2 linked regions of the Homo sapiens genome follow. The protein of the gene in region 1 purifies or fractionates together with the protein of each later gene. This does not show direct contact. Each region holds a gene or a part of one and is shown in the gene's direction. Other genes may lie near its edges.

Region 1 (3,359 bases):
ATGACAAGGTGGGTCTTTGCACCTTCTAGCGATGGGCAGCATCCCACAACACAGTGGTCTAATTGAGGTGCTGCACTATGAGTCCTGCCTGTGTTAACCAGCCTTCCTTCATGTCACAATACTGCTGCTGGATTTGCTTTTTACATCTGCCTATTGCACCTGACTTGGGCATGGATGATATGAGGTAATAAATGCTTTGAAAACCATGAAGGGCCACACAAGTGCTAGTGTTATTGCTGTGGGACAAGGTCTGGGAATATGAGAACCAGCAGCAGCATGGGTGCAGCTGAGAACCAGATGGTGAACATCTGTCTCCAAAGTGCAACATTCCTGAGCACCGGATTTATAAGGCATTTCTTACTCGACAGAATTGACTTCATGGAAGGTATGTAGTTTGACTTTGCCTTAGCCATGTTGATCAAATAGGAGTATTGTGCATGCCGCAGCTAGACAGAGTCCTGGGCCCTTTAAAAACCTTGTCAGTGACTCCCATTGCAGGCCCAGCGCAGTGGTTCACACCTGTAATCCCAGCATTTGGGAGGCTGAGGCAGGCAGATCACTTGAGGCCAAGAGTTCGAGACCAGACTGGCCAACATGGCAAAACCTCCTCTCTACTAAAAATACAAAAGTTAGCCAGGCGTGATGTTGGGTGCCTGTAATTGCAGCTACTCGGGAGGCTGAGGCAGGAGAATCACTTGAATCCAGGAGGCGGAGGTTACAGTGAGCTGAGATCATACCACTGCACTCCAGCCTGGGCCACAGAGAAAGAACGGTGATTCTTTCTAGCAGAAATTAGCAGAGTAAGTGTTTTTGGAACAATTGCTAATGAAAAGAAGGAAAAACAGAAAAAAAAAATTTTCTGTTTATGGGAGGTGACTTATTTCTCTATCAATCCTGTGAGTGATTTAGCATGGCAATTCATGAACACTGAGTTGTTTCCTTGCTCTGATTGTCTGTTGCTCAATGAAATGGCTTTTAGCAGGGCTCAAAGGTGAAGCCAGATTCTCCTGCACTAATAGGATAAGCATGGAGACACCAGTGTTCAGTGTGGCCTCTGGTTGTCTGAAATTTTGCTGTCAACTCTAATACCTTGAAAGAATTAGGTTTCCAAAGTGGGATATTGTGCTGCTGTTTGTGATATAGCATCTAGACTTAGGAAAGGGCAGGAACAATTTAAAAGCACATCTGTAGGCACAAAGAGAATTATAATAGAAATTCAGAATTCCTAGGCATATGACCTAGACTAAAATGTCTTCATAACTACAAATGAAATCAGGGTCATTTATAGTACAAACTACCACAGAAGTCAGTAGTTAGGGGATGGAGATAGATATGAAAAAAAAAAAAAGCAAACCCAGCCTAACTCCCAGGGAGGGAAGAGGGGCGACAGATATGCAGCTACACAATGTTTTTACTATCTTGAGTTCTTTTTACCCAGATTCCATAGCTAAATCCAGATGTATTAATAGGTAGAGACTACTTCAGAAAGGATGAGACTATTTTCTTGCTTAATTATCCACACAGTAATTCAGAAATGTATATTGAACACTTTTTATATGCCAGGCACTGCTGGGCACTGGAAATATAAAAGTAAGCAAAAATGAAAAACTATCCTGTCCTCCTGAGGCTTAGCATCTAAGGGAGACAGGCATTAGTCAACCCCGTGTGGCTGTGAATCAGCCATGATGCTGAGTGCTACAAGAGAGGACTGTGCGGCTGGGAGGGCTTATAACAGGATTTGACCTAGTTAGGGAAGATCTGAGGAAGTGATGAAAGAATGGAAATCAATATGTAAGAGCTCACAAGTCAGAGTGAGATGTTTCTTCCTATACTGCCTGCTTCTAATGAGCATCCACTTCATTGAACCACCTCTTCATTGAGCCAAACCTACCATACAGGGATACATTCTCTGGAGGAAAGTTGAGCAACTATTGCATTTGGGACATTAGAGTATGGGTGGGCTGACAGGTATGTGTATGTTTATTATCCAAGACAGCCAAGGTGTTTATCCTGTTACAACATCCCAGAGGACAGAGGCTCTTATTTGTGACTCTTTTTTCTTACCTGTAACACCAGAGGCATAACGTACATCATAATGCTGCATCTTGTTGACGCTTCAATGCTCACAATTCAAAGGTGATTTCTGAAGCACTTTGTTACACTGGGGACAGCTCCTAAATCCTCCCACTCTTTTTTTGCCTCACCTTGGAGTCTTGGGCTCTGTTGATCACTGACTCTGCCAGGTCTTTCAGCAGGCAAGACAGCTCAGTTAAATTGAGTTTGGACTCCACTGTAGTGCATGCATGAGACAGCACCCCCAATCCCCAACACCCACACACAAACTTTAAATATTTGTAACAGAATTGTTACCATTAATATTGCTTAAAGGCTAACACATTAGCCAGAACCTAGATGTCTTCTGGAAATTTTTTATTGCAATGTTACTTCATCTACATAAAGTTGTCCAATCACTGAAACCTCCAACTGAAATAAATGGTAAGCTTTTTGTTCTCAATTCTGAAATCAGATTCATTAAAAGGCACATGGGGATAGATGATATAATACAACAGGCTTCTTCATGGGAAGCAGTTCCCTAGATGTATGAGGTAATTGGAAAATTCAAGGCTGGTCTCTCAGGTGCATATAATTTATCCAACAGACTCGAGATAAGGCTGATTTTTTTTCCAAGTGGTATTTGTTTAAATGACAAATACTGAGGTTCGGGAGAAGGGAAGTCTGGCTTATAAAAACAGATACCAAGGAGATCCAAACTAAAAATTCTACCAATTAGATCTTTATTCACTGATCATAATATTAAGTCTCTACTATGTGCCAGGAACTGTCCTACATCGGGACAGTATGGTAGTTTAAAAATATCCCTGCCCTCATAGAGCTTACAATCTAATATGAGAGGACAGACAACAAACAGAATATATACATGTTGGCCTGTAATCCCAGCACTTCGGGAGGCTGAGATGGCCAGGAGTTTGAGACCAGCCTGGGCAACATGGCAAAACCCCATCTCTACAAAAAATGCAAAAAATTCACCAGGCATGGGGTCGGGGGGGTGGTGTGCCTATGGTTCCACCTACTCCAGGGGCTGAGGTGGGAGAATCACTTGAACCTCGGGAGGCAGAGGCTGCAGTGAGCCGAGATTGTGCCACTGCACTCCAGCCTGGGTAACAGAGAGAGAGAGACCCTGTCTCCAAAAAAAAAAACCACAAAACAAAACATATATATATGTGAGATGGTGATGAAACTGGGCAACTCTGGGGTGGGAAGTTGCTATTTTGTACAGGGTAGTTAGCTAATAGGGTGATTTTTGATACTGGAGCGAGAACTTGAGAGGAACATGAATC
Region 2 (3,407 bases), on another chromosome or scaffold:
AGAAGCTAACAAAAGTGATTTTTAATCAAGTACAATCTTAAAAACTTCATACATAAAAACAGTGGCTCCTCAGTCTACCTTTAAAACTCCCAATCCTAGGAAATTACTGAACTTGCATCAAGACCTCACTACAGCCTATTGCAGAGAAAGTAGACGTGTAACCAGTGATGGCCGTAAGTCCATCTTACGAGGATCTCAGCACGAGGCTGGAATAAACTGACCCCATGCTCCCTGTGGGGATATCAGTAAGAGAGGAAACATGGAAGGCTGCTGTGTTAATTTCCCGTTCCAGCTGTGCACTGGAAAAACGCATGTCATCAGCACTGAGTGCAGATATTTACCAGCCTGTCTCCTAGAGACCGTAGAGATCTTTAAGCTCAAAGTGTGTCCATAATTGGGCTAAAAGCATCTCCCCCAGCTCCCTCTGATGACTGTAGTGTGTTGAATTCATTTAACACATCTTGATAAAGGGCTTGCTTCATGCCAGGCACTGTGGCGGGCACTGGAGTTATGCGCGTCAGTGACACAGTGCTGAATGGAGTTTATTTTGTAGTTAGGAAGACACAGACACCAAAATAAGCAAAGAAGTTGAGGTCATTTTTCAGGTACTGATGAGTGCCATGAAGATTAATAAAGCAGGGAGATGGGGCGTGGGTTTGGGGAGCTGCTGTGCGGTCTCTCAGCCAGGCGCCCCAAGTCCACGGGTGTCACTCAGTGCATCCCTGCCTGCCCACAGCACAGGCAGCGCCGTTCCCACTGTCACTTCCTGCCTCCTAGGATGTCCCCTGGGTTTCTCTTTTCTTGCCTTTTGATGACCCTTCATCATGTCTTAAGAATCATGCAAACTGGCCAGGTGCGGTGGCTCACACCTGTAATCCCAGCACTTTGGGAGGCAGAGGCAGGAGGATCACCTGAGGTCAGGAGTTCGAGACCAGCCTGGCCAACATGGAGAAACCCTGTCTCTACTAAAAATACAAAAAATTAGCCAGGCTTGGTGGCAGGCGCCTGTAATCCCAGCTACTCGGGAGGCTGAGGCAGGAGAATCACTTGAACCAGGGAGGTGGAGGTTGTAGTGAGCTGAGATCCCGCCACTGTACTCCAGCCTGGCATAGCAAGACTCCGTCTCAAAAAAAAAAAAACAACAAAAAACAAACAAACAAAAAACATGCAAATTCTGATTACAGGGAAAGAGGAGAGTAAAGAGGATGCAGAATTACTGGGCCAGCATAACTGTTCATGGCTCACGAGGAACTCATGACAGGTCTTACATGTCAGAACACAAAGTATTATCATCCACTCGTACAGAAAAGAAAAAGGGTTTGTGTGGTGAGAACTTGGAGCTGGGGTCTGGTCTGAAACACGTGTTTGGAAGGTTGGCAGGATCTGCACGTTTGCCACCTGAGGCTCTGTTTCTCAGTGCCACCTTGAGCTTTGCTCTGTGGCTTGAGGTGAAGCTGGTGATGCCAGCCTGAGGATGGTCTGGATGACAAGTGTAACGTTTGATCTAGAGTGAATCAGCTGTTTGTCCTTGGAGCAATTCACCCATTCTCTTTAAAAATATTAAAAATAGCCTCTATGTCCCGAAAGGAAGACAGCCACAGCTCCCCAGAAGCTCATTACAGTGAGGGGCAGCCGGGCTGAGGAGAGCTGGAGGCCCCCAGCACACGAGCTGGGGCTTTTCCATGTCTTTGTGTCTGCGTTTTTGAAAAACAAAAAGTCGAGTGACTATGCATGTGTGTGTGTGTGTGTGTGTGTGTATATATATACATATATATACGTATATATATACATATATATACGTATATATACATATATATACGTATATATATACATATATATACGTATATATACATATGTATATATGTGTGTACATGTATATATATACATATGTACATATATATGTACACATATATATATACATATATATGTACACATATACATATATATGTACACATATACATATACATATATATGTACACATATATATACATATATATGTACACACATATATATACATATATATGTACACACATATATACGTATATATGTACACACATATATACGTATATATATGTACACACATATATACGTATATATATGTACACACATATATATACGTATATATATGTACACATATATATATACGTATATATATGTACACATATATATACGTATATATATGTACACATATATATACATATATATATATTTGTTGTTTGGTTTCTAAAGCCTTGATACAGGGTTTTGTAATTATTTTTCTTTCCTCTTTTAGATCTCAGACAAATACGATGTTCCCCATGACAAGATTGGGAAAATATTCAAGAAGTGTAAAAAGGGGTAAGCAGCCACTGCGTCCTGTGTACCTCGGAAAGTGCTGATGCCCCCCGCAGTGCTAGTGTGACGCACCCCCCAGTGCTGTTGACACCCCCCAGCACCATGTAACACACCGTGCATGCTAGTGACACCCTCCTGTGCCAGTGACACACACCCTGTGCCAGTGTGACACGTGTGCATCGTGCCCAGTCCAGAAGCAGCCAAAGAAACCTGGGTGCTGGAATGTGGCTTTTCTAAATTATATACGAAATTACTTAGATAAAATTGATCTGCCTTGAGGAGATCTTTGTGTATTGTTTCTCCAAGTCACCTTCTTTGCCCTCCACATGCCTGGCAGCAGTGCCATGGCTCCACACTCCAGGGTGTGTGGCCAGCGCCACTGAGGATGGCCAGGGCAGCACCTCCGTGTGTCGAGCCCGTTGGAGCCGGGCACTGGGTTGGGCACGTCCCACGGTGCTGCGCTTGGTCTTCACGTCTTCTTTCTGAGCTGGTCTCAGGGCTTGTTTATATTTATAGACAGGCGGCTGAGGCTCAGAGTTCAAGAGGCTTTTCGGGGCCATGGTTGGTATTCCCTGCCTCTGCAGCCCATGCCCTGCTCTACCCTCCTGCTCAGGATCCTATTTCCAAGTTATGTCACGTTGCTGCTTTGTCTAGAAATTAGTATTTTTAGTTCTTTTTTGTCTGTCTATGATGTTTGGCATGGATAAGCAGTGGCTAGCATAAGAATTTTTTGGCTTAGTTTTAAAACAAATTCTAATGGGAAATTTCTAGATGGTTCTAGTGGAAAGAGTTGGACTTAATAGTAGTTAATTTATTTTTGTTTATTTTCTTGTTTTTGTATTCTTTATTTTTTGTTTGATAATAGTAGTTCATTTAAACTTTGAGGCTCACTTGCTGGAGTGTGTAATTTGTCAGGGGGCTGTGACTTCACATCATGTAAGTTAGTGTTATTGATGTGCTTTTGCTTTATTCATTTAGAGATGGTTTCACTCTATCGCCCAGGCTGGAGTACAGTGGTGCAATCAGAGCTCACTGTAGCCTTGAACTCCTGGGCTCAGGCCATCCTTTCACCT

The links. The genes of interacting proteins can lie anywhere in the genome.
Region 2: the proteins of TTF2 (region 1) and GRHL1 purify together in Homo sapiens (co-immunoprecipitation; one large-scale study listed by IntAct). This does not show direct contact.

The regions. Positions count from the first base shown.
Region 1 is NC_000001.11:117,104,939-117,108,297, forward strand, and holds the end of TTF2 (transcription termination factor 2), read left to right. Parts: 3' UTR 1-2,515; downstream 2,516-3,359. UniProt on the Homo sapiens protein: DsDNA-dependent ATPase which acts as a transcription termination factor by coupling ATP hydrolysis with removal of RNA polymerase II from the DNA template. May contribute to mitotic transcription repression. May also be involved in pre-mRNA splicing.
Region 2 is NC_000002.12:9,996,693-10,000,099, forward strand, and holds part of GRHL1 (grainyhead-like protein 1 homolog), read left to right. Parts: intron 1-2,272; coding exon 2,273-2,337; intron 2,338-3,407. UniProt on the Homo sapiens protein: Transcription factor involved in epithelial development. Binds directly to the consensus DNA sequence 5'-AACCGGTT-3'.